Linked DNA regions of Homo sapiens. The protein of the gene in region 1 purifies or fractionates together with the protein of each later gene. This does not show direct contact. Each region holds a gene or a part of one and is shown on either strand. Other genes may lie near its edges.

Region 1 (7,010 bases):
CATAAAATTAAATGGGAGTTTAATTTTAAGTTTAAATATTTTCATTTTTTCCCCACTAACATTATAACTTATAGTAATATGCTATGAAGTAGGTAAGTTTGACTAGGTAGGATTTTACCTTATATGCTGACTTTAGAATCCATCCTTGGCTTAAGATGCAACTCCACTGCACTAACACATTCAGTGATAATTGAGAGGAAATCTACAGAAAGGACATAAGGGTTTAGACTGACAACATCTAGTGATCGCCTAATTAATATTTGTGAAACCAATAAGTGGATGAAGTGTATATTTGAGAGCCACCAAATAAATGAAATTGAGTGTATATTATTGAGGGTTTCCTTCCTCCTATATGTATTTTTAAGTATAATTAGGATAGTTTTATATACATTATTTATAACCTGCTTTTAAATAATAGTTATTTTCTTTATTTGCAAAAAATAAAACATTTTTACTGGAAAAAAGTAAGGTAACTATAGATACATGCCACATGTCAAGCAGAGCCAGATCCTTTCTGTTTCTATTCATACATATTTTTTAAAGAATTGAATTGGCAACTAAGAATACTATTTTATAATCTGCTTAAACTATTATATTATTGCCATAAGTATTACTTTCTCTAGCAAAAATATTTCCCTAGAAAATATTTTCATCAGGTCAAATTTAAGAAAGAGATGCCTCCTTCCCCATGTTAAAAATGTAGTAGTACACTTTGACCATCTCAAACTTGATTGAAGGGAGGGATAGTCAGAGGAAGGGGAAGAGACCCTCATTTCTAATGCATACTAGTTACAAACATGTAGTCCTTTGAGGAGGTCAGCGGAGCAAGGGAAGGAAATGTGAGGGATTCAACCATCGTAAGGATCTGAAGTCTCAAACAGGTAGTGGAGTCCCTTAATTCAGACCCTGTTCAGCTACAGAGAAGTATGTATATGAAATATGTGCCATAAAATAAAATCATACTATTTGCAGACATTTCCTTACTGTAGAAGTTACATATGCCCCCTGAGAAAATGTAGAAGAGTCTACAATGAAGTAAAAAAATACATATAAATCATCCATAAGCCCACCAACCACCCAATCATACCTAATTCTAATACTGTTACTGTTAATAACCTGCTTTTTCCTTACATAGCAATATACTATAAAAATTTTCATTTCAATAGATACATGGCTGTCTAATATTTGTCAGATATTTTATTTCTTCTTCATTTTTCACTTTTGTCTCAAACATTTTTCTGAATATTAGTAATTAATATATTACTTATTATTTATTTATTTATTATTATATTTTAAGTTCTAGGGTACATGTGCACAATATGCAGGTTTGTTACATAGGTATACATGTGCCATGTTGGTTTGCTGCACCCATCAATTGTCATTTACATTAGGTATTTCTCCTAATGCTATCCCTCCTCCAGGCCCCCAGCCCCCGACAGGCCCCCGTGTGTGATGTTCCCCACCCTGTGTCCAACTGTTCTCATTGTTCAATTCCCACCTATGAGTGAGAACATGCGGTGTTTGGTTTTCTGTCCTTGTGATAGTTTGCTGAGAATGATGGTTTCCAGCTTCATCCATGTCCCTGCAAAGGACATGAACTCATCCTTTTTTTATGGCTGCATAGTATTCCGTGGTGTATATGTGCCACATTTTCTAAATCCAGTCTATCATTGATGGACATTTTGGTTGGTTCCAAGTCTTTGCTATTGTGAATAGTGCCACAATAAACATACGTGTGCATATGTCTTTATAGCAGCATGATTTCTAATCCTTTGGTTATATACCCAGTAATGGAATCACTGGGTCAAATGGTATTTCTAGTTCTAGATACTTGAGGAATCGCCACACTGTCTTCCACAATAGTTGAACTAATTTACACTCCCACCAACAGTATAAAAGCATTCCTGTTTCTCCACATCCTCTCCAGCATGTTGTTTCCTGACTTTTTATTGATCACCATTCTAACTGGCGTGAGATGGTATCTCATTGTGGTTTTGATTTGCATTTCTCTGATGACCAGTGATGATGAGCATTTTTTCATGTGTCTGTTGGCTGCATAAATGTCTTCTTTTGAGAAGCGTCTGTTCATATCCTTTGCCCACTTTTTGATGGGGTGGTTTTTTTCTTGTAAATTTGTTTAAGTTCTTTGTAGATTCTGGATATTAGCCCTTTGTCAGATGGGTAGACTGCAAAAATTTTCTCCCATTCTGTAGGTTACCTGTTTACTCTGATGGAAGTTTCTTTTGCTGTGCAGAAACTCTTTAGTTTAATTAGATCCCATTTGTCTATTTTGGCTTTTGTTGCCATTGCTTTTGGTGTTTTAGTCATGAAGTCCCTGTCCATGCCTATGTCCTGAATGGTATTGCCTAGGTTTTCTTCTAGGGTTTTTATGGTTTTAGGTCTAACATTTAAGTCTTTAATCCATCTTGAATTAATTTGTGTAACTTATTAGTAATTTAAATATATAAATACAACACTTAGAAAATAAAAGTTCTCTTTATATGAAATACACATTCTCAAGTATATCCTATGATGTTCAGGATATATTCATCTGCATTTCTAATGATATAAAAATACAGTAAGACCCTGAAACAACTTGAGTTTGGATATAACATGATTGGTGATAGCAGGTGGGGAGAGAGTAAAATGGATGGATGATATTTAAGTCCAAGTGCTCAGTGAAGAATTGTTTGTGGCAACAAATCACAGCTGAGTCCTTGATGAATTTGGGTTGTGTAGCCAGCTAGCCAAATAGACTCACATCAGTCATTCCATCCATCCATCTCTCAGTAACATAACCTGGAATTTTATAGAATGAATTTCTGGACTTCACTTATCATGTTATCATGTAATTTAATTGTATACTCATATTTTAAATACACAAATATGTATACTGTTACAAAAATGTAATACCACATATAAAATTAACTTTCAATTTGCCTTTTTTTGTTTAACAATATACATTGAACAATTTTTTTCATGTGAGTAAATGTAACTCCACATCATTTTTTCATCACTGTATAATGTGGCTCTATATGAATGATCAAACTTTTCTTAAACCAATTTCCTTTTAGAAACATATAAGTTTTTGGCTCTTTAAAAAAAACACTATTGCCACAACTACTACAATGACCATATTTGGCATAGGAGTATTAATGTATGATAAATCTCTAGAAGAGGAATTGATGTGTCCAAAAGCACATATCTTCTAAAGTTTGATATTGCCAAAATGACTTCCAAAAATGTTGTACTACTTAATAGTCTCACAGTACATGTGAATATTTGTTTTACCATATGCTCATCAACTCTGAATATAATCAATATTTGTCTTTTCTAATTGTACAGATGAAAAATTAACTCTTATTTTTATTTTCAATAGATCTCAATTCTATGAGCATATGCTATTATTCCCTTCTTTCAGATGAGGAAACTCAGGTTCACAATGTGTACCTGACGATTAATTGATGATTCTTCAGGCAGCACAGCTTCCTGGTAACACCACCATGAGGACTCTGGAATGAAACATTACTCTTTTTTAAAAAATTCTGTATCATTTTCCTCACAAAACTTCTAATATCACAACAGCTTTCACTTTAAAAGCACTTACTATATGCCACATGTACAATAAGCACTGTACATGTATTAACTCATGTCATTAAAGTAATTTTTTCTTTGTCTTTTCTGACTATAAAAAGATAAAAGTTGCCCAGTGCAGTGGCTCAGGCCTGTAATTCCAGCCCTTTGGGAGGTTGAGGCAGGAGGATCACTTGAGCCCAGGAGTTCGAGACCAGCTTGGGGAACATAGACCCTGTCTCTACAAAAAAATTAAAAGACTAGCTGGACATGGTGGCACACACCTGTAGTCCCAGATACTTGGGAGTCTGAGGCAAGAGGATCACTCGTTTCGAGGAGTTTGAGGCTGCAGTGAGCTGTGATCGCACCACTGCAACCCAGCCTGGGCAACAGAGTGAGACCCTGTCTCAAAAAAAAAAAAGAGAAAGAAAGACAGAAAAAAGAAGAGAGAGAGAGAGAGAGAGAGAGATTAAAGTTACCTTTTTAAAAAGGATATAGAAGTACGAAAAATAAAAAGTAAAAATTGCATTCAGAAATCTCACTCTTGTTCCAGGGTCTTTTTTTGTTGTTGTTTCACAACTGCTGCCAAGGCCACCCTGCTCTACAACAGCTAAGAACCAGATTGCAGAGGAAATGGAGGCTAGAGGAGGGACGACTGATGGAGGAGTTATCCTGGGAGTGGAAGAATGGAAGAGACAATTCTCGAAAGAAGTAGAAAAGTTCAGTAGCTCCAGAAAAAGAGGTAGCCCCTCCCTAGTAATCAGAGTCAAGCAAATAACATTTTTCCCGCTGGGATAGGAAACAACAGAAAAGACTGACAGGGCCAAATGTATAAGTGGGGGGCGGGGAGGGAGAGAGGGTGGGCCCACTTCTGCCGCGCTTTTGGTGGGAGTGGAAATTAGGGACCCGAGCTCACTGGTGACGTAGATCTCATGTGACCAGGAGTCGACGTGTGCAGAAGTCCTGGTAATCTGGTCCTTGTTCCCGTCTGGATACCAGCTTCCTTCAGCAGCGCAGGCGGTGGTCCCTGAGGCCCGTGGAAGGAGTCAAACTTGCGGGAATTTTGCAGGTTGGTGTCACTGTAGGTGTTGACTGGGGATTTCTAGTGTGGGGGGGTTTAAGGCAGAGACTTGTGGGAGTGCCGGTCAGGTCCGTCCCTCCACCCTCCACCTCCAGGTCTACGGGAACTGATGACCCTTGGGAAAGGGACTAGGGGTCCTAGGAGAAGAACAGGGAGACCTGTGGTAGTTTAAAAATAATCATCCTCTGCTATCTAAGACTGCTTTCCGGACCCCCACCCTCCTCCCGAACCCCGCCTCAGTCTTAAAGATAGTTTGGAAATAATCTGCTTTCTCACTCTTTGTCTGATGGGAAAAACGAACTGACTTGCATGCACTGTGGAGAGGGGGTGAACTAGGGGAAACAAAAGGTGGGAAACTTTCCATATCCGAAACCCTAAAGGAGGAAAGCTACGTGTGTCAGTCTCTGGCGCTGGTCGGCCCACCAAGCGCTCGCCCCACCCCCACCGTCCCCTCCCGTTTCCAGTTTATCTGCAGGGCTGTTGTTTCCAGCAAGACCCAAAGCTAGAAAAGGAGGAGGAAGAAACTGACCCGATCAGTGCCAGGTAGGTGAGAGGAATATTATAAAGTCTCCTGGGGTGGAGACAAAGGTTGTAAGCGCCACCGTTCCTGCCGGCTCCCTTCCACCCCACCCCTTTCCCCTCTTCTTTTCTCTCCCCCTTCTCCTTTCCCCTCTTCCTCTGCCTGCCAGCCACCTTTCTCTTTTCTGGCCTGGTCCCTGTGTTAGGCCCTATGGGGGAAAAAGGTCTGGGGAGGGCTGGACGGCGGAAAGGAGGGCCTTGGAAAAGGTTAGAGGGAAGGACAAGAGAGAAGTGAGGAGGTGGAAAGTGGAGGTAAAAGGAGTGGGGATAGTGAAGCTCTGATTGCTGACTGGGCTTCTTAGGTGGAAGATATTTTATAACAGCTCTGAATAAAAAAAATTAAATGCTAAGGCCTCTGTCCACAGCACCTGTCCACTCACCAAGTCTTTAACTTACTGTCTTCTTTTTGCTTTCTAGAAGTCATTGTATTCAAAGAAGAATAAGCAAGAAAGAAAAGAAGGAAGGAAGAGAGGTAGACAGATACAAGATGAAATCCTGTCAAAAAATGGAAGGAAAACCAGAAAATGAGAGTGAACCAAAGCATGAGGAAGAGCCAAAGCCTGAGGAAAAGCCAGAAGAGGAGGAGAAGCTAGAGGAGGAGGCCAAAGCAAAAGGAACTTTTAGAGAAAGGCTGATTCAATCTCTCCAGGAGTTTAAAGAAGATATACACAACAGGCATTTAAGCAATGAAGATATGTTTAGAGAAGTGGATGAAATAGATGAGATAAGGAGAGTCAGAAACAAACTTATAGTGATGCGTTGGAAGGTTAATCGAAACCATCCTTACCCCTATTTAATGTAGTTTACCTTGATTTTTATCTGATATTAACAATACCATATAGCTTGCTTTTTATTAGCATTTCCTGATATTCCTTTGTCCATATTTCTACTTATAACCTGTTGCTATTAATGGTTTTAGATGTATCTCTTGTTATCTGCATCTCATTGTTTATTGTATTTTGAACCAATCTACAAGTCTCTGTCTTTTAATAAAAGAACTTTACACATTTGTAAAAAAGAGGTTCTTGGTAAGATATAAAATGGAAAAAGGCTAAGTAATATGTGAATATCATATTTTTGAAAGGTAAAAAGTACATTTGTATATTACATATATGGACATAACTTGTGAAGGATGAAAGAAAGTACAGCCTCTCGGTGGTGGGATTATGAATGATTTTTCTCCTTTTGCTTGTTTGTATTTTCTATATTCCTAAAATTAACACACATTATTATTGCTAGAATAATAAAAGTTTTATAAAAAAGAAGCAACAAGCAGCACGTATTAGTTTATTTCTAAAAGTATTGGGGCATTTAATATTTGTTGACAGAATTTTAGAAGAAATGTGAACTTGAAAGTAACTCCAGACCACTTAGCTAGAATAATAAATTTTACATATTTTCTCATCTTTAAAATAAAGAAAATAATCTCACAAGGATCTGGTGAGGGCCAAATAGAGTAATGACTGTGAGCTATGTTTGACAGAGTTTTGTTCCCATCCCAACTCCGTAAGAGATTAATTTCAGCGATTTGGAAGGGTGGAGAAAGTAGTTCTTATCTGTGATTAAGAACAAACCCAAGGCCGGGCGCGGTGGGTCACACCTCTAATCCCAACATTGGGAGGCCAAGGCGGGCAGATGACGAGGTCAGGAGATCAAGACCATCCTGGCTAACATGGTGAAAGCCCGTCTCTACTAAAAATACAAAAAATTAGCCGGGCATGGTGGCAGGCGCCTGTAGTCCCAGCTACTCGGGAGGCTGAGGCAGGAGAATGGTGTG
Region 2 (7,036 bases), on another chromosome or scaffold:
TTCTGGGAGACCTGTTGTCAGACCCAAAATAGAATAGACCCTGTTCTATTTTGCAGGGCTTCAGTTTCTTTTCTGGGCAGGGGTTGGATAGCAGACTGGAGATCTCTAAGGAATCAGCAGTTTGAAAACCTCAAAGGCCAAAAGCTCAGGAGCTTCTGGGAGATATAAGACTTTATCTGCCGGGCATGATGGCTCACGACTGTAATCCCAGCACTTTGGGAGGCTGAGACAGGCAGATCATGAGGTCAGGAGATCGAGACCATCTGGCTAACACGGTGAAACCCCGTCTCCACTAAAAATACAAAAAAAAATTAGCTGGGCATGATGGCGGGCACTTGTAGTCCCAGCTACTTGGGAGGCTGAGGCGGGAGAATGGCGTGAACCCGGGAGGCGGAGCTTGCAGTGAGCTGAGATCACACCACTGCATTCCAGCCTAGGGGACAGAGCAAGACTCCGTCTCAGGGAAAAAAAAAAAAAAAAAAGTGTGAACCTGGGAGGCGGAGCTTGCAGTGAGCCGAGATCACGCCACTGCACTCCAGCCTGGGCGACAGAACTAGACTCCGTCTCAAAAAAAAAAAAGACTTTATCTAAAAAATGAGAGGGCTTTGAGTCCTTGGAGAGCCTCCACTGGTCCTGAGTCATTTGTCATTTCTCAGTTTGAAGAACATGGGTGCTCTGGTAGCCTGCTTATATAGTTGTGGTCCCACTCCCCTCTACCCTCACTTCCAATTCAGAGCTGAGGTCCCTAGAAATGCAGCCACTTCTCTTGGCAGGAGGGTTTTTGACAGGCTGTTTTTTGTTTTTGTTTTTTTGGGACAGGGTCTTGCTCTGGCACCCAAGCTGGAACCCAGTGGCACAATCATACTAGCTCACTGCAGCCTCAACCTGCAGGGCTCAAGTGGTCCTCCTGCCTCAGCCTCCCAAGTCGCTGGGACCACAGCTAATTTTATATATTTTGTAGAGACGGAGCCTCGCTATGTTGCCCATGCTGGTCTTGAACTTCTGTTCTCAAGAGATCCTTCCACACAGGCCATTGTTAACCTGAACTTTGCCAGCTTGGAACCTCTGAGGACTCTGACTGCGTATGGACTGGAGATAGGCAGCTGCCACCCTCCCTGTTTCCACTTCTCTGTCAGCTTGGGGATGACATTGAAGCATTGGACTAGGAACAAATCCAGCCCCACCACCTTTGCTAGCTTTATGACTACTGGCAAATTGTCGAACCTCTGAGGCTTATTTTTCTCCTTTGTAAAATGCAATAAGCCTGCTTCCCAGAGTTGGTGTGAGGATCAGATGAAGTAATGGATGGAAAAGGGGCGAGGTGCGGTAGCTCACACCTGTAATCCCAGCACTTTGGGAGGCCGAGGTGGGCAGATCACTTGAGGTCAGGAGTTCAAGACCAGCCTGGCCAACATGGTGAAACCCTGTCTCTACCAAAAATACAAAAATATATATTAGCCGGGCATGGTGGTATGTGCCTGTAGTCCCAGCTACTCGGGAGGCTGAGGCAGGAGAATTGCTTGAACTCGGGAAGCAGAGGTTGAAGTGAGCCAAGATTGTGCTACTGCACTCCAGCCTGGGCGACAGAGTGAGGCCCTTCTCCAAAAAAGGATCTGGCATGCACAATAAGTTTCCATAAATATGTGTTAAATCAAGAGAAGTATCAGGTCTGAAGGGCCGCAGGGGATAGATCTTTTGGATTTAGTTCCCCTTAGCAGGCTTTCTTTGCGGGTGGAGGAGCTATGCACCTGCCTAAGCATCTGATTTCACTTCTGGCCAGGCCGCCAGTGAAGAGAAGGCCATGGTCTAATTAAAACTACCTAGCCCGGGGCCGGGCTCAGTGGCTCACGCCTGTAATCCCAGCACTTTGGGAAGCTGAGGTGGGCAGACCACAAGGTCAGGAGATCGAGACCATCCTGGCTAACATGGTGAAACCCCGTCTCTACTAAAAATAGAAAAAATTGGCCTGGCGTGGTGGTGGGCGCCTGTATTCCCAGCTACTCGGGAGGCTGAGGTAGGAGAATGGCGTGAACCGGGGAGGCAGAGCTTGCAGTGAGCCGAGATCGCACCACTGCACTCCAGCCTGGGCGACAGAGTGAGACTGCATCTCAAAAAACAAAAACAAAAACAAAAAAACCTTCCCAGCTGGACACAGTAGCTCATGCCTGTAATCCTAGCACTTTGGGAGGCTGAGGCGGGCAGATCACTTGAGGTCAGGGGTTCAAGACCAGCCTGGCCAACATGGTGAAACCCTGTCTCTACTAAAAATACAAAAATTAGCCAGGCGTGGTGGTGGGCACCTGTAATCTCAGCTACTGGGGAGGCTGAGGCCAGAGAATTGCTTGAACCAGGAGGCAGAGGTTGCAGTGAGCCAAGATCGTACCACTGCACTCCAGCCTGGGCTACGGAGGGAGACTCTGTCTCAAAACAACAACAACAAACCAAAAAAAACAACTACCCGGCCCTAGCACTGGCTCCACCATGGGGTGCAGAGGCAGAGTAGCCCCAGGGGCTGGCCCTGATGACTGTTCCTTTCCCCCCACAGGTATAGCCTTCACAGACCTCCCGGTGAGTACTACTATTGAGTCTTCCCCTCCTGGGTTTCTGGGGGCTGACTGGGATGGGGCACGGTGGTACCTGCAAGTGCAGGGTGTGGAGTCTGGTTCTTTCCCCAACCAGGGATGTGTGCCATGCTGTCAGCTTGAGGGTACCAGGAGGGGCACTTGCTGGCCTTCCTCTCTCTCCAGCAGTAAGGTCTGGTCTTCCTACGACTCTTAGCAGGTGACAGTAATTTGTGGCACTTCCAAAGGCAGCTGTGGGGCTGGGGCGGGTAGGGTGGTGGAATGAAGATAGCTCCATGGCTCAACTGGTCTAAACCAGCTGTGTGTCAGCTGGGGTGCAGAGTGTAGGGAATTGTTCCTGAACTGTGAGGGAACCTAGTCCTTGTACATACCCATCAGAGATCCCTGAGGAAAGTTAGTGCCCTAGGGGAACTCATCTGCTACTATCTAGGGCACCCCCAAGCCAGAGAGGTGAGCTTTGTGGGGTCTTCTCTTCTTAGAAAAGGATGGAGTTTTCTGGCCGGGTGCGGTGGCTCACACCTGTAATCCCAGCACTTTGGGAGGCCGAGGTGGGCAAATCACGAGGTCAGGAGATCAAGATCGTCCTGGCTAACAGGGTGAAACCCTGTCTCTACTAAAAATACAAAAAAAGTTAGCCGGGCCTGGTTGCAGGCGCCTGTAGTCCCAGCTCCTCGGGAGGCTGAGGCAGGAGAATGGCCTGAACCCGGGAGGCAGAGTTTGCAGTGAGCTGAGATCGCACCACTGCACTTCAGCCTGGGCGACAGAGCGAGCCTCCGTCTCAAAAAAAAAAAAAAAAAAAAAAAAAAGAAAAGGATGGAGTTTTCTGCTTGCTTAGTTCAAAAAAAAAAAAAAACAGAAAAGGATGGAGTTTTCTGCTTGCTTAGTTCAGGGCATATCCTCACCTCCAGCCATCCCGCACCTGTACTCCAGTCTCTATTATGAGTCATCACAGGCCTAATCACATGCAGGGCCTCCACCCAGGATGCTGGGAGCCTGGCCTGGCTCTGTGTGTTCTGGTTAGGTTCTGGAAGGAAGGAAGGTTTGCTGACTCTGGTGGCTGCTTTGGGATCCCAAACACCCCAGTGATGCCCCAGGAAATGCCTTTGTGATCTTATGGGCCTCTGAAGCCCAGACCATAGCACCCAGGGTCCTGTTAAAACCTCCAGTCCATGGCTCAGAATCCTTCCCTCTTACCTGGAAGCCCCAGAGAGGGGCTGTGGTCCTAGGCAAAGAGAACAGAATCAGGTGGAGAATGCTGACCCTGGCTAGGGAAGGGTCTAGTTATGGGGACGTGACATGAAATGACCAGGCATGAGCATGGCCAGTATGCAGCCACATGCAAGAAGGTATGGGGGAAAGACATGGTAGGCAGTGACGGTCAGGAAGGCTTGCTGGAGGAGGCGGGCCTTGCCTGTGGTGGAGGATGGTAGGGGAAAGAAAGGAAGCGAGAGGTCCTCTGTGTGCAGAGCCCATGGTGGGCTGAAGCCAGCATACAGGAAAAGGTCCCATACCTTGTGCAGGTACAAAAATGCATGGTTGGCCAGGCGCGCTGGCTCACGCTTGTGATCCTAGCACTTTGGGAGGCTGAGGTGGGCAGATCACCTGAGGTTGGGAGTTCAAGACCAGCCTGACCAACATGGAGAAACCCCATCTCTGCTAAAAATACAAAATTAGCCGGGCGTGGTGGCGCATGCCTGTAATCCCAGCTACTCAGGAGGCTGAGGCAAGAGAATTGCTTGAACCCAGGAGGTAGAAGTTGCGGTGAGCTGAAATCGCGCCATTGCACTCCAGCCTGGGCAACAAGAGCGAAACTCCGTCTCAAAAAAAAAAAAGTGCATGATACTCAGGAAGGAACATGGCCTGAGCACGGAGGTGAAGGGTGGACTGAGGGCCCTGGGAAGACCATCTGCAGTGACAGTGGGGAGGAGGCTAGCGAGGCTCTGGACAGTTGCAGTGGGGAGCCACAGGAACCACCAAGTGAGGGAGGGACCGAACAAAAGCCAGTCATGGTAGAGGCTAGGTGGAAAGCAGGGAGCCTCACACCCTACTGGCCAGAAGATCCTCTTAGCGAGCCTCTAACAGGAAGGGTAGCTTCTCTTCACCCTTTGCCAGCACCAGGGGTCTAGACCACCGGTTCCCTTTTGCCATGTTCCCCTCCTCCCTCCTTTCCTGCGTCATCCCATCTCTGCCTACCCCCCATGTATCTATCTTTTGGTTTGTTTTTTTTTTTTCTTTCTGAGACAGGGACTCACTCTTGTCACCAAGGCTGGGTTGCAGTGGCAGAATCACAGCTTACTGCAGCCTCAATTTCCTGGACTCAAGCCATCTTCCCACCTCAGCCTCCCGAGTAGCTGGGACCACAGGTGCATACCACCACACCTGGCTAATTTTTATCTTTTTATTTTTTGTAGAGACAGGGTCTCACTTTGTTGCCCAGACTGGTCTTGAAAACCTGGGCTCAAGCGATCCTCCTAAATTGGCCTCCCAAAGTGCTGGGATTACAGGCATGAGCCACTGTGCCCAGCCTCATGTGTCTTATTTTTTTTGAGACAGAGAGATCCTTGGCCCTGGATCTTTCCAAGAGGAGCCATGACCCACTATTGCAGCAGACCTTCATGGGCACGTCTGAAGGGTCGTGGAGCCCAGCCCATTTCTGTATGCTTTGGCTGAGTTCCAGAAAGGGCTCTTGGGCCTTGAGGACACAATGGCCTCTGATACAGGGCAGGACACTCTCCATGATGTGCCTTGCTTGCTTTTCTTTTGCTTTCTCCCCTCAAGCTTTGGGGCATAATGTCTCTGCTAGGGAGGTGGACAGAGGTGGCTCCGCCCTGCCTCCTCCAGCCTTGCTGCAACTCTCCCAGCCCAAGCATGGGCCAGCAGCAGCCATGGAGGTGAGGTGAGGCCTTAGAACCCCACTGCCCTCAGGGCCTGACTGACATTTCATTCTCCTCCTCAGGCCAACCTCTACCCCACCGTAGGCCTGCAGACACCTGGGGAGATTGTGGACGCCAACTTTGGGCAGCAGCCCTTCCTGTTTGACATTGAGGACTACATGCGGGAGTGGCGTGCCAAGGTCCAGGGCACGGTCCACTGCTTCCCCATCAGTGCCCGGCTTGGCGAGTGGCAGGCAGTGCTGCAGAAGTGAGTGCCCTGCTCCTGCCCTTACCCACTCCCACCCCACCCCAGCCCACTTCACTCTAGGCCCCTGTAGGGCTACAAGCTGTTCTTACAAATTCCAGCGGGTGGATCCTTTCTGGGAAGCATTCCCAGGGCCATTCAGCCTGCAGCTCTCCTGCTTCTCTGTCGTCGGATGGACAGCTCCCACCGAGTTCTCCGGGCTGCTCCTAATTAAACCTTTGCCTCTCAGCCATATTGGAGGCTCCTGTATATAAGATCACCAGCAGGGCTGTTTTCCTTCCCCAGGTCATTTTGCAGAGGATTTTGCAGAGGATGCCCTGTGGTCTCTTCCTCTGTGGACCCTTTTTCTACCATAGGGAGTATCCATGGTGCTGTGACTCTGGCCTGAGGCCACCTCACAGGGCCCAGCATCCAACTGAGTCTCATTCGTCTATAGCGGTGGTGGAGGGAAGGGAGTTCTCCCTAGGACCAGCTGAGCTAGCTCCTTGGCTGATTAATTCCCAGACTGTCCTGGAAGCCAGTGTCGCTGAACTCCCAAGGGAGGCCAGCTTTGGGTTTCTCTTCCACTTGCCATCTGCAAGCCTGAGTGAGGCAGTGACCAGTATCCACTCTGCCAGGAGGTGGGTGTTAGCTTGGCTCTCAAGGATGGGCAGATGGGCATGGGGAAGGGCTGGGCTTCCACTGCCTGTGGTCATTGCCCTGCAAAGGCACCAGGGTGCTAGGATTCCTGGGGTGGGGTTGGGGTACACACTGAGTTCTTTGTGCAGCCTTTGTCCCTTGAGGCAGGCCCCAAGGATGGGCTGAGGCAGGGGCTAGGTGGCCAGACCTTCCCCAGGAAAAACAGCATTGCTGCCTCTTGTTCACAGCCCCCCAGAGCAGATGACAAGGACTTCCTTGGATGGCCAGGACAGCGCCACTCCCAGAGCAGGCTTGGTGGGATTGCCAAGAAGAGGGGTGAAGATGCCAAGTCTGTGTAGGGGAGGAACTGATACTCTCAGTTTTCAGGGCCTAGGCTCAGCACATGGATGTGTTTTTGTTTTGGGGTTTTTAAAAAAATACTGAGATGGGGTCGCACTTTGTTGCCCAGGTTGGACTCCTGGGCTCAAGTGATCCTCCCACCTCAGCCTCCTGAGTAGCTGGCATCACAGGCATGTGCTACCATGTCCAGCATAGCACATAGGTGTTTTTGTTTACATGTGTGTATCCATGTGCTTGTATGTGTTCATATGTAGCATTTGCCAAGACCTGCATATAATTTGTGTACTGTGGTTTTACATAACTTCATTTAATGAATATTGATAATGGCTATGTTATCA
Region 3 (7,000 bases), on another chromosome or scaffold:
TAAACAGTTGTAGTTGATAATCACTTACAGGAAAAGTTCTGACTGGCTCTAGACAAAAACAAAAATATTAAAGCCTCTTAGAAGTCAGAGATGTTGCAGATTTTGGAATTCCATATTAAACTTAGAGGAGATGTGAGAAAGAGCAAGGTGTGCACTTGCTCTTTTCCACCCCCACCTGGCTGTATGCTGCTGCTCTTGCCACAGCAAAGTGTCAGAGAGCCAAGGTGGCAACTGTCAACCCCACGAAACTGTGTAGGAAACATTAACTCTGCAGTCAGAGATAATGTGATGACATAATTGTTACTTCTCTAGGTAATGGTAATTATACTATGCTGTAGAGAAGAATTTAAATTATAAGTTCAGTATTTTCACTGCTTTCCTTTTCTTCCCTTTTCTCTCCATGCTGTTTAATTTAGGATGAAGGAAGAAACCAAGCTTAAGGACCAGAATTTTAAAAGACCTGTTAATACATTATTTTAGGCTGTATCAGTATGGGTGGGGGTATTCTTGCTTTTCGCAGCTTATTACTGCAAGCAAACTAATGCTTTCTTGCTGGTGCTTTTTTTAGACATTCAGGTTTTGATGGGAAGCCTTGTGTACCTGAGACAAGGGATTGAGAACTCACCATATGTTCACCTACTTGATGCAAACCAGTGGGCTGATATCTGTGACATCTTTACACGGGATGCTTGTGCCCTCCTGGGGCTCTCCGTGGAGTCCCCTCTCAGTGTCAGGTATGGAAATTAGCCCTGTCTGTTATTGAAGTATGCACTGCATTATCACCTTCCCTTAACTTGTTTGGTTCTTGATGTTTAAAGCCAAAATAACTTTTGTCTTTCCAAAGAAGAGTGCAATTGGTATTTCAAAAGATATCACAATTGGCAGTGATGCTGTTTTAGAGAAGCAGTTTTGAAAGTGTGGTGTATGAACCTCACAGGATCCTGAGAGCCTTTTCCACTGTATTGACATTAGTACAGATGGTCCAGAAACAGTGGTGGACTAAACTGCTAGAGCCTTAGCACAAGTTGGGGCGGTGGTACAAACTCCACGAATAGCTGGATTCCTCACCACCACACACTTGCAGTTTAAGAAATGCTAGTTTTACTTAACCACGTCTGTAATCTCAGCATTTTAGGAGGCCTAGGAGGGTGGATCACGAGATCAGGAGTTTGAGACCAGCCTGGCCAACATAGTGAAACCCGCCTCTACTAAAAACACAAAAAATTAGCTGGACGTGGTGGCGGGTACCTTTAATCCCAGCTAGTCGGGAAGCCGAGGCAGAAGAATCGCTTGAACCCAGGAGGCGGAGGTTGCTGTGAGCCAAGATTGCACCATTGCACTCCAGCCCGTGCAACAATGCGAGACTGTCTCAAAAAAAAAAAAAAAAAAAAAGAAAAGAAAAAAAGAATATTCTTGGCCTGGTGTGGTGGCTCACATCTGTAATTCCAGCACTTTGGGAGGCTGAGGTGGGGGGAATCTCTTGAGGCCAGGAATTCAAGACCCACCCGGGTAACACAGCTAGACTCCATTTCTACAGAAAACTTTTTTAAAAAAGGATGTTCTTGGTGAAACATTAAAATTATTAGTTTTATTAAATCTTGACCTTTCAGTACACATCATCTTAATAATTTGTATGACAAAATAGGAAATCCACATAAAGCACTTCAGTTTCATGTCAAAGTATGGTAATTGTCTTGAGAAAAAGTATGTTGTTTTGAGTTATGAGCTAGCTGGTCACTTTTTTTCATGGAATACTTGTTTTGTTTGTTACTTGTTTTTTTCTTGCTTTTTTGAGATGGAGTCTCCCTCTGTCCCCTGGCTGGAGTGTAGTGGCGCAATCTCAGCTCACTGCAGCCTCCACCTCTTGGGTTCAAGCGATTCTCCTGCCTCAGCCTCTGGAGTAGCTGGGATTACAGGCGCCTGCCACCACGCCCAGCTAATTTTTGTATTTTTAGTAGAGACAAGGTTTCATCATGTTGGCCATGCTGGTCTCGAATTCCTGACCTCAGGCGATCCACTGCCTTGGCCTCCCAAGGTGCTGGGTTTATAGGCGTGAGCCACCGCACCAGCCTTGGAATAGTTTTTACTTGGAAGAATCATTAACATAGTTACGCACACTCAGGTTTTTGGCAGTCTTTTTTTTTTTTTTTTTTTTTGTCTTTTTTCTTAAATTTTTAAGACATTCTTGCTATGTTGTTCAGGTTGGACTCAAACTCCTGGGCTCAAGTGATTCTCCTGCCTCAGGCTCCTGAGTAGCTGGGAGTACAGTTGTGTGCCACATCACCCAGCCATTTTTTTAAGTGAACGAAGCAAGCCTGTCACATTTGAAAGGTCTTAATTAAGTATGATTTTACAAAAGCATGCATGAGTAAAAGAGTCATTCAAAGTACAAGACAGACAAATGGATTTTAATGTAGCAGGGTACAAAAAGTTTAATGGTAAAGTTTCAGATTCTGCTCTGCAGCGAACCTTTAGAAAACTACTACCTGTTTTGGCCAAAACTATGAAAAGTCAGTTTTCGTGTGGTATTAAGGAGGAGTATCCACAATGATCCAAAGTGATCAAAGTAGTACTACACATATGTGTGAAACAAGGTTTTTTTTCATTTACCTCAACCAGAAGAACGTATCACAATAGATTTAATGCAGAGTAAACTATAAGAATCCAGCTGTCTTTCTGTTAAGGTAGGCATTCAGGAGAGTTGTGAGAGTTTGGAACAGTGCCACTCTTCTCACACATATATTTTTGTTTTGGAAACTGTAGTTATTTTTTTATAAGAATGTTTGCAATAATGGCATGGTATTTTATTTTTACATGAACTAATCGGCACCTTTTATGTTTCTCATTTTAATTTCTAATGTATTAAAGATATAATCCACAAAAAGAAAAGCTCTTTGAGATCCTTAATACTTAAGCATATAAAGGGGTCCTGAAACCAAAACATTTTAAGAAACTGTTGTAAGAAAATAACTCTTTTTTAGCTCTTCTATTCATTTAATTCCACAAATGTTTTGCATACCTGCTATGTGCCAGGCACTGTGGGCACTGTGTTGGATATGAAGATGAATAAGGTGCATTCCACAGGGTGCTCCATCCTAGCGTAGGAGTGGACAGATGCAATTAGCTATAATGTGAGGCGCTGATGCCATCAAGTTCTCTGAGGAAGACTCTAAAGTGGGAATGTACATGCAGAAAGTTTACTGACATCAGCACCTGTGGGAGAATGAAAACAGCAGGATTGGGCAGAGAGGAAAGTTGGACTGTATTAGAGTGGCAACAAGGTGTCTCCCATCCGTGAGGAGCTCTGGAGCTGCTGTGGGCCCGTGGAGTTGTCCCAAATTGGGCCTATAGGGCTGGGGTTTTGTACCCTCACATGGAGCAATTGCTGGATGTGACTCTGGTCAGATGACTCTCTTCAACTGAGGACAGTCCTGAAGAGACGGACACAGCTGAGAGTTGGCTGCCAACACTTCCAGATCTGAGAAATGAGTGCTTCCACCCTGGACAGGGGTGATCTGGGGATAAGAGGAACTATGCAAAAAAAATGTTTCAGGAGCAAGCATGTCATTTGACTGATAAGCTGAGCCCATTAAATCCAGTTGTTTTGTGCAATATAAAACCTTTTTTGGCACTAATGTAAGATTATTATGAAATTCTTTATATTTTACTTTTTGAAACAGGGTCTCATTCTGTTGCCCAGGTTGGAGTGCAGTGGCACGATCGTGGCTCACTGCAGCCTCAACCTCCTGGCATCCTCCCACCTCAGCCTGCTCAGTAGCTGGGACTCTAGGCACATGCTACCATACCTGGCTAATGGCTAATTTTTATATCTTTTGTAGAGACGGGGGTCTCACTGTGTTTCCCAGGCTGGTCTCAAACTCTCAAACTTAGGTAATCCTCCCACCTTGGCCTCCCAAAGTGCTGCAATTACAGGAGTGAGCCACCACCATCTGCTGTTATTAAATTCTCTAAAAACCTTATTCTCAATTCTGTACTTCTTTCCTGTGGATTGAAAATGGTGTGTAAATCAGCACCATCTGCAGACCACATTTTGAGTATCATTGTTCTAATTAGCGTATACCTTGGAGCACATTTTGTAAGAAAAATAAGTCTGGTGGTATATGGTCTGTAAGGAAGGGAATAGGAAAGGAAGTTATGTCTTGTATATTGCTGAGTGAAGAATTTTGTGCAAGAACATCTCTTTTTCCTTCAAACTCAGATGCTAAAACTACTGTATTTGGAAGAGTGTAGTAGTTCTTAATTCCTGCTCTTCATTTGAATTAATTGGTTCTCCAAAGCTGCTTTCTTTTTTAAAATGCATGTTTTAAAACTTTATTTTTCTATTTTCTGAGGAAGTAAGCTAAAGTTAAATTACCCTAGCAGATGAGTTTTTTTTTTTTAACGTTTGCGTTCTTTAACTGCATTTACCCCCATATTGGTGAGGTTTATTTAGAAAATTTAGAGTTTTATTTTTTGTTTTGTTTTTTAACTGGGATTGGTTTTCAGTAACTTCAGGAAATATACCAGTGGGCCTGGGGAAGAAGGGGAGGGAAAACAAGTTATTTCTCTTCTAGTGGAAATGGCTGGATTTACTTTTAGCAGAACAGAAAGCTCTCACCCTGTCCAGTGGCCAGGGTCTGCAGCACATAGAGTCTGGAGAAATTGATGTCTCCTTGGACCAAGCGGCCTGACCCCTGGCCTGGCACTGACGTTTCCTCTTCTGCTCTCCCAGTTTCTCAGCAGGTTGTGTGGCGCTGCCAGCTTTAATTAACATCAAAGCCGTGATTGAACAGAGGCAGTGTACTGGAGTTTGGAACCAGAAAGATGAATTACCTGTGAGTTCCATTTTCTATTGGCTATTTACTTTTACTGCCATTAGAAGAATATGGCATCTTTAAATGTTCATCTTACCTTTTAACCAGGAAACATTGTAGCCATTTGACAGGAGTTCTTTTATGGATATATAAAAGATTAAACAATACAAATGAAGAGCCTAGTACATTTTGGGGACCCTGGAGGAGGAGTATTATAATTTTGACTTGAAGTGCCTTTGAAAGCTGGTGAAGGGAAACATCAGAAGTGGGGAGGGCTGTACATACAGTAGCAGGCAGTGTGTTCTGCAGTGCAGTTCACAGACCACTCCTGTGATTGTTTTTCTAATATAAACGCAAATTTAATTGGTTTTACTTTTGTCTTAACTATTGCTGTCGATAAGATCACGAGTTTGTGCTGGTTACATTTGCCAATAGAATAAGTATAGAGCTCTTAAAGGTCGTAACACCTGCAGTCATCAGTGGGTCTCTAGTACTGTATTTCTACTGCTCTCATGGAAAGGACCATGGTTTTAAACATCAGCACGATCACTTGCCAACTCTAGAACTTCTCTAAGCAGTAGTGTATTCATCTCTAAGACAAGCACCAGCTTTCTCTTTATGGGGCTGCTGAAGGCTAGAGATAACATAAGCATGCTTAGAATAAGACGGGATACATGGTAGGCACTCAAATTGTGGCTGCCATGGTGCAGTTATGATGTGAAGTGGCGAAGGTCATTGTATGTATGTTTCCACCAGGTCTCTGACAGGCACTGAGGCTCTGGCCTGGAATTGTCGTTCCTGTCATGATTGTGTCACAGACCCTGAAAAGCTAACATACGCATTTGTTTTTTTGCCCGTTTTATACCACACCTGTACACGGGTTTATTTGCAGTTACCTTGTTCTTCCAGCAGGTAACCCTGTCAGTTGGTTGCCCCAGCTTCTCCTCAAAGATCTTTTCTGATTAAAGGCACAGGTGCAGTCCTGGTCCTGAGTGTGGTCAGGACACAAGTAGCACTCCTGCTCTACTGCCGCTAACTTGAACAAGTGAAAAGAACTTGAGCCTTCACTTGTTTTGTGGAGGCAGGTGCCTGGCATCTGGCAGTTTCCCATTTATGTTGTAAGCATCTCTGACATGCACTAAGAGCAGACTGAAATCTGAATTCACCTAAAGACTGTGTGTCAAGCCAGTAAAGCCATTAGAGGTGGTGATCAGGTCATTGTTTGTCAGACTTGTTTTTACACTTTGTCAGCTTTCTTGAAAATAATCTTGAAGGCTAATTTAACACTTTGAATCACTAAGACTGTCCATCTGAGTTAGAAGAGTGCTATAGAAAGTTACATTCAGGTGAATAGATCTGATCAATGTTCTTTGCTGCACAGTGTATATTACCATGTGGATGGTTTTGTGAAATATGACTTCAGCTTTTTTACTTTTTTTTTTTTTTTTAACAGATTGAAGTGGACCTTGGTAAAAAGTGCTGGTATCACTCTATATTTGCCTGCCCCATTCTTCGTCAGCAAACAACAGATAACAATCCACCCATGAAATTGGTCTGTGGTCATATTATATCAAGAGATGCCCTGAATAAAATGTTTAATGGTAGCAAGTAAGTGTCTGACTTTTAAAAAATGTTAGCAAATAAATTTTGTTTTGGAACTTGGTAGGAGGATAAGAAGTGATGAGGATTAAAAAAATGTAGCTAGATTTAGAACTAAATAAATTTCTTAACTATTCATTTGGCAAAGTTGGTGGTATCTGATTTGAGTATTTTTAATGTGTCTATGGATTTGGTGATTAGATTTATAAGCATGTCTTTAACTTAACTTTTGGGGTAGGTGATAGATTTTCCCCTTTTTTATACAAATGGTCGCATACTAAAAAATGTTCTGTACTTTGCTGTTTTCACTTAGTGATGTATTTTGGAGATCTTTTTCTGTGCTGCAGAAACAGCCCTCATTATTTTTTTGTTAAAGCTGCAGTATATTCTACTGTATAGAAATATGATTGGGTAGCCAGTTCCCTATTGATGAACATTTGTTTCTCTAAACAGTGCTAAGTGAAGGCCAGGTGTGGTGGCTTATGCCTGTAATCCCAGCACTGTGGGAGGCCGAGGCAGGCGGATCACGAGGTCAGGAGATTGAGACCATCCTGGCTAACACGGTGAAATCCCATCTCTACTAAAAA
Region 4 (7,036 bases), on another chromosome or scaffold:
GATCCAGACCATCCTGGCCAACATGGTGAAACCCCGTCTCTACTAAAACCACAAAAATCAGCTGGGCGTGGTGGCACATGCCTGTAGGCCCAGCTGAGTAGCTCGGGAGGCTGAGGCAGGAGAATTGCTTGAACTCAGGAGGCGGAGGTTGCAGGGCCGAGATTCCTCCACTGCACTCCAGCCTCGGTGAGAGAGACACCGTCTCCAAAAAAAAAAAAAAAAAAAGCCAGAAGAAATGAATTTGGGCTGAGCACGGTGCCTCATGCCTTCCTCTCCACTTCTCTAAGTCTTATCCATTATTCAAAACCCAGATTAAATTCTAGCTTCTCTGCAAAGCCTACTCTGCTGGATTTCAACCGAAAGTCAGCTGAACTCCCTATCATTCATCTAGCGTAAAATAAACTTAAGTTCTACATATAGAGAGATAAAAATGGGTCTTTTTAAAAATAGCTTGTAAATTCCTCAAAGTCTGAGACTATCTTTCACTTTCTTACAAAGCTGAGAGCATCTGATATTTGGAAATAAGAAAGAACTCAAATACTTTTTGAGACTTTATTTATGTACTTATTTAGAGACAGTCTCTAAAAGCAGACAGTCTGCCCTGTCGCCCAGGCTGGAGTAGGGTGGTGTGATCTCAGATCACTGCAACGTCTCCTCCTGGGTTCAAGTGATTTTCATGGCTCAGCCTCCCGAGTAGCTGGTGTTGCAGGTATGTGCCACCGTGCCCGGTTAATTTCTGTAGTTTTAATAGAAATGGGAGTTTCACCGTGTTGGCCAGGCTGGTCTCGAACTCCTGGCCTCAGGTGATATATCCATCTTGAACTCCCAAACTGCTAGGATTACAGGCGTGAGCCACTGTACCCAGCGGAGACTTTTATCATTTTTTATTTTTAGTGAGAGGATCTCATTCTGTCACCTAGGCTGAGGTGCAGGGGCACCATCATAGCTTAGTATAACCTCAAACTCCTAGGCTCAAGCAATCCTTCCACTGCAGTCTCATGAGCTAGGACTATAGGCATGAGCCATTGCACCAGGCTAATTTATTTTTATTTTTTTCTTGTAGAGATGGAGTCTTGTTGTCGGGCGCAGTGGCTCACACCTGTAATCCCAGCACTTTGGGAGGCCGAGGCGGGTGGATCACAAGGTCAGGAGTTCAAGACCAGCCTGGCCAAGATGGTGAAACCCTATCTCTCCTAAAAATACAAAAAATTAGCCGGGTGTGGTGGCACGCGCCTGTAATCCAAGCTACTCCAGACGCTGAGGCAGAGAAATGCTTAAACCTGGCAGGGTGAAGGTTGCAGTGAGCCGAGATCGCGCCACTGCACTCTAGCCTGGGTGACAGAGCAAGACTCCACCTCAAAAAAAAAAAAAAAAAAAGAGATGGAGTCTTGTTATGTCACTCTGGTTGATCTTGAACTCCTGGCCTCAAGCAATCCTCCCACCTCAGCCTCCCAAAGCACTGGGATTACTGGTGTGAGCCACCATGACCAACTGAGACTTTTTTACATAACACAGTTATGATGAGTCTGAAGATGCTAAGCAAATTAGGAGTAGGCTGTTGGTGAAATGTAACTAATGTCTCAAATACATCTAAAACTCACTGTATACAGTAGCTCCTCTGGAGTGACAGGACTGGTGAAGATGGTACGCAGGCATCGGAGGCAAGCTTCAATAAACTTCAGGTCTGGGGACAGTAGTCCTATTAACAGAAATGAGATTTAGGACTAATCCTTTCAACCAGTATTTAAAGCACTGCAAACTGATTCTTAACCTTAATTGAGCAAAAATGGCTTCCCTACATACCTTGCAATAAGGCAGGGATAATATGGCAGTCCAGTAGAGACTTGACATTGTTTTCAGTACCCATAGCAAGACTTCCCAACACCACTGCACATTCAGTTTTCAGCTCTGTGCTTGAGGTTTCTTGCTGAAGCAAGTACAACAATCTAAAAAGAAGGAACTTAATAAACGAAGAGACTAAAAAATTTAAACAAGACTCAATGTGACCAAAAAAGGCTGTGCAGTCCACATACTAAAAATATGGTTGGCTGAGTTTATATGAATCCAATGGTCATTTGTTTATCTCATCTGCTAATTAAAGAAACATCTGGAAAAAAAATCTAGAAGAGGTTTTGAAAAAAAGAACTATCATATTCTTAGAGTTTATAAAAAGTGTAAATCTGAAAGTTGTCCACAGATAGTCTCTGTAGAAACAGCGTCATCAGAGTCCATGTCATCTACCACTTCCTGCTGGGTCTCCAAAATATGAAGACTCTCAAATGCCATGTGCTGCCAGATCTTAAACTCAAACTAGAAATGCTACTGCTCTGAATCCAGAGCAGTGGTGCAGTTTGTAGATATCGAGCCTATAGGGAATATTCAGAGCCCTTGTGCAGCTCCTCAAGCAAAGGTAGTTTCTTCTTTCTCCAGCTCTCTCATTTGGAAAAGGAAGAGATCCTCTCATTTCCACTCCAGCCCAGCTTGCCAAACAAATACTCCCCAAACCCTAACCTTCCTCCACTTATAACCATCTACCTTATGTTCTAAGACAGGACCCTCATGCTCCATAAAGCACTATTTATATATACCAAACATAAATCCCCTAAGAAAGGCTGCTGACAGCTTTATAGTTACTAAAGTATATGTTTGAGGTTGGTGAGTTAAAACACTTAAACCATTAATTCTGTATCAAAACCAGAAAATAAGGAGAAAAAAACAAAATAATAAATAATTCTGAATGAAAAGCTAATAGCAATTGCACAGAAAACTTAGCTCTGAGGAGCAAAAGTAAAGAGGAAGTTATGTAACTGTCATTGCCTGCCTAAAGGAAGCTTATTAGGTCATCAAAAGAAGAAATTAAACTTCCTAAACTTCTTACGTTAACTTAAAAAACAGCAAGTTGTAAAAATCAGAAGTTAAAAAATGAAACTGGATTAAAAATCAAGCAGGGTTTTTTTCCTTTAAATTCAAAAAGGTCTTAAGGCTCCTAATAAATTACCCACTCACACAAAAAACTGCCAAGGCTCTAAGGAAATGGAGAAGAAAGTATCAGGCTGTTGTACATTGCATATGTACTTTACGAACCCTTTTGTCATCAGGTCAAAGGTCTTCCTGAGTTTCCAAAATGTATTAACACATTCACTTCTTACTACATTCTCTGTTACTTTATAATTTTTTTCCTTAAAGATAGTTTAAATACTTACATTTATTTTTAAAAATAGGATTTATTTTAAGAATTAGACAGACAATACAGGAAAAATGGGTTCTATAATTGAGAGTAAGAAATACATTAGAAACTAGTATGAATGGCAAGAAAGGGGTGAGACAGCAAACATACCTTGGAACAGCTCCTAAAACAATGAGATTGGCTTTCTGCTTGTTGTTTCCAATTACAGCATTTTTCATGTCTCTGAATTAAGGGGAAGAAAAAATAAAGTATGTTGAGACAGCACTGAAGAAAAATCAAAGATCATTCTACTTCATTATGCAATATCTTAGATTTGACAAAGTAAAAGCACTAACCTTTTTTCACCTAAAGTACTAATGAAGGGATAGAGATAGGTGCAGAGTGAATGTGGGGGCTGTAAAACGGCGTATTGTAGAAAGTGAGAGATATCCTGAGTACTGGCGAAAGACTTCCAGTACAGAATTGAGTTCTTCTAGAAAGGGTACCTACCAATACTTTGGATACAAAGGAATACAGGCCACCCTCACGCTCAGCTCTAAGAGTAGGGAGTGAGTTAAACGAACAACAACAACAACAGAAAAAACAGCCCACAGAACATTAACTCCTTGTTTCAATGATCACACTTTGTTCACTTTTTTTTTTACTTCTTTATATATTATTTCTTACAATTCCATTTTATCTGCTTTATTGTCTTACTAACTGTACTCCTTTGTTATTTTCCAATGCATCTTTTAATTTATCACAGTCAGTCTTCAAGTGATATTAGCCCATTGCACATGTATTTTAAGAGCCTTGCATATGTATTTCCACTTTCCCATTCATTTTTTGGGCTGCTGTTATACAATATTTTTAAATTGCTTAGAAACAACATAATACATTGTTACTATTTTTGCTTAAGCAGCCAGTTATCTCTTAAGGCGATTTAAAAAATAACAAAGAATCTTTTACATTTCTCAGATATTCACAGTATTTTTTATTCTAGCTATACAGAGCTCTATACTTCACCAGGAGCAAAACTCTATTCCACAATAAGAGAACCTCTACCACTGATCACTTGGCTCACAAATTTGTGGTTGGTTCAAAAGGAAATGTAGAGAAAAAATAAATAGCTCAAAATAAACCCAGTACTACTAATAAAATGTTTAAAAAAACTTCCCTGGCCGGGCACGGTGACTCACACCTGTAATCCCAGCTCTTTGGGAGGCCTAGGCAGGCAGATTGCTTGAACTCAGGAGTTCAAGATCAGACTGAACAACATGGCGAAACTCCATCTCTACAAATAATACAAAAATTAGCCAGGTGTGGTGGCACGCACTTGTGGTCCCAGCTACCTGGGGGGCTAAGGTAGGAGGATCACTTCAGCTGGGGAGGTGGAGGTTGCAGTGAGCAGAGATCGCGCCACTGCACCCCAGTCAGGGTGACAGAACGAGACTCCATCTCAAAAAAAAAAAAAAGAAAAAAAAATCAACAAATAAATGTTATAGTCAGCATACATTTCTAACACCAATCATATTTACTGGCATTAAAGAACCTGGTAACGATTAACCCTTGTCTTCAATTGCCTTTTTTGATTATTGCAGAAAAATACTGCAACAACTAGTGATGTGCTAAAAGCAGATTTTCCCTACAAGTTTCTGAATGGCATTTTTACAAGTCAAGCCAAATACTGAGAATGCCTGGTCTTTCTTCCATTAGCTCAGTGCCTGAGGGTAGGGCTTTTTTTCCAGGCCTGACCTATCCCTCTGTAAAGTATCCCTCAGATCTTCTATATGGTTTACAAGAAATAAGTAGCAATTTTTTTGTTGTTGTTTATGGGACTGAACTGAATGAAGTTTACTGAGGTTGTTAGCAAGTTCTGATACATGAATATAAAACTATATGATATCAAAGGATCAATTAGCAAAGTTAAAGTTAGTAAGAGATTTCTAAGCTCCCGCATCCTCATGGATGCCTGTTTTCTTTAGAGGCTTTAGTTCCTAATCATCAGCATATGGACCTTAACCTACCAGCTTGTTGTTCACTTTCATTGTCTTCCTTTCTCTTAATGTGTTCTGCCTATACTAATGTAGAACATTCATTTATCCAGCCCCTACCTACTTAGAGTCTGTGTAGGCTAAGTGCCATTCTGAATGCTTTCTATTCCAGAACTCCCAACCCTAATATTTCCCCAGTTTTTCCTCTCCATTCTTCTTAAGCAGAAATGAGCGGTCCCTAACATTACCAAATGAACCCATTCCAAACATCTCAAACCATGCCATGTTTTTACAGACAAGAGCAAACAAAAACCTGTCCAACACCAATTTTCTAATTCTCTTAATAGTTTACAAAAAGGACATGAAGGAGGTAACTGATGGCAACAGAGGAAATGCCAACTAAAGAGAACACAATACAATGGAACAATGTCTAAAGAAAAAGATTCTCGCTTTGGCTTTAGTAAGTAAATATACCTGTGCTAGATAAGGAAAAAAAGATGTTAATAAATTCTATTCAATTGTTGCTATAAAGGAATGTTAATAGATCACTTCCATGAAGAATTAAAATCAAAAGGATTAACAGGATTAAGCAATCAATTTCAGATGACAACATTCAGCCATCTAGATGAAGCTTCTTTCAGTTCCCAGAGTGTAGTTATTCTTTCTCCGTCATCTCCTTATCCCCTCCCTCATACTTTCCCCTGACTAGCTTTACTCATCCTTCAGGTCTGAATGTCACTTCCTCAGGAAGCATGCCCTGAAACCCCCAGGTCATCACTTTGTTAGAGTAAAAGTCTATCTCCTCCTGAGAGGCAAGAAAGCCAATCTGACCTGGAAATATCAAAGCAGTTACTGTCAGTAGATCATTATTTATAGTGATTCTAGATATCCATTATTTTTGTAAAATGCAAACTCACAGCTATCATCCAAGATGGGAACACAACAACACTATCCAAGATTTCTACATTACTTTCAAATTTACAAAGCATTCCATATCCACTACTTAATTTCATCTTCATCATAATCTAGAGTAATATTAACTCCATTTTACAGAGAGAAAGCTACAACTCAGGATTGGCCTTTTTTCAGAACCCAATATTAAATGACAGAGCCAGTCTCAACCCATGTCTTTTATGCCAACTGTTTTTTCCATTATGGCCAGGACATCAGACATTGACAACGAACCAATGGAAAAGACAAATGAATTCAGTGAATTCATTTTCTTTTTCCTTCTGTGTTTTAATGTTACATTTTTATGCAAAATAAAAGTGTTTCTAACTTTTAGTCAGATACCCTTTTCCCAGTAGACCAAAAGAATGTCATCTCATGCCCACTAACTTTTAATGTTGGGAAAAATGCTCTACTTACTTTTACTGAAATTCAACAACTAGTTTTTGAGCTCAGCATTGTGCTAGCCTCTATGAAGTATACGAAAGTATCACACAATGGGATGCCTGGTCTGAGGAGTTCACAATATCCGTGGAGTGGCAAAAATAACACTATCAATGTAAGTCAGTACTAAATTAAAAACTGAATGTTTATAAGGTAAAGAAAAGTAGATGCTCAATAAGCTTAAAAGGTTTTGAGGCAATGGTTAAGAACTAAGATAAACCTTAGACAATAGTCAGGACTTGGATAAGCAGATGGGAGGACAAAAGGAGAAATCGTTCATACAAGACCATATTGGAAATGAAAATGGCATGTTCCTGGGGCAATACAAGGAGCCTGAACTGAAAAACAAGTTCGCTTTAGGGTGGCATGGAACATAAAGTTAGAAAAGTGATAGGGAGATGAGACAAACTAAAGGGAGATGGATTAAGGAGCAATCATATTTTTGATCACAGAAGGGGCATGAAGGAAGCAGTGACTAAGGAAA

Evidence for each region.
Region 2: the proteins of TCEAL9 (region 1) and RANBP10 purify together in Homo sapiens (co-immunoprecipitation; 2 studies listed by BioGRID and IntAct, with this or other methods). This does not show direct contact.
Region 3: the proteins of TCEAL9 (region 1) and RMND5A purify together in Homo sapiens (affinity purification with mass spectrometry; 4 studies listed by BioGRID and IntAct, with this or other methods). This does not show direct contact.
Region 4: the proteins of TCEAL9 (region 1) and ARMC8 purify together in Homo sapiens (affinity purification with mass spectrometry; 3 studies listed by BioGRID and IntAct, with this or other methods). This does not show direct contact.

Annotation. Positions count from the first base shown.
Region 1 is NC_000023.11:103,351,965-103,358,974, forward strand, and holds TCEAL9 (transcription elongation factor A protein-like 9), read left to right. Parts: upstream 1-4,541; 5' UTR 4,542-4,642; intron 4,643-5,118; 5' UTR 5,119-5,197; intron 5,198-5,650; 5' UTR 5,651-5,720; coding exon 5,721-6,035; 3' UTR 6,036-6,498; downstream 6,499-7,010. UniProt on the Homo sapiens protein: May be involved in transcriptional regulation.
Region 2 is NC_000016.10:67,733,545-67,740,580, reverse strand, and holds part of RANBP10 (ran-binding protein 10), read left to right. Parts: intron 1-2,545; coding exon 2,546-2,568; intron 2,569-5,538; coding exon 5,539-5,723; intron 5,724-5,781; exon of another isoform or gene 5,782-6,032; coding exon of another isoform or gene 6,033-6,340; intron 6,341-7,036. UniProt on the Homo sapiens protein: May act as an adapter protein to couple membrane receptors to intracellular signaling pathways.
Region 3 is NC_000002.12:86,765,291-86,772,290, forward strand, and holds part of RMND5A (E3 ubiquitin-protein transferase RMND5A), read left to right. Parts: intron 1-568; coding exon 569-734; intron 735-4,732; coding exon 4,733-4,835; intron 4,836-6,267; coding exon 6,268-6,422; intron 6,423-7,000.
Region 4 is NC_000003.12:138,218,299-138,225,334, reverse strand, and holds part of ARMC8 (armadillo repeat-containing protein 8), read right to left. Parts: intron 3,410-7,036; coding exon 3,338-3,409; intron 1,947-3,337; coding exon 1,804-1,946; intron 1,700-1,803; coding exon 1,602-1,699; intron 1-1,601. UniProt on the Homo sapiens protein: Component of the CTLH E3 ubiquitin-protein ligase complex that selectively accepts ubiquitin from UBE2H and mediates ubiquitination and subsequent proteasomal degradation of the transcription factor HBP1.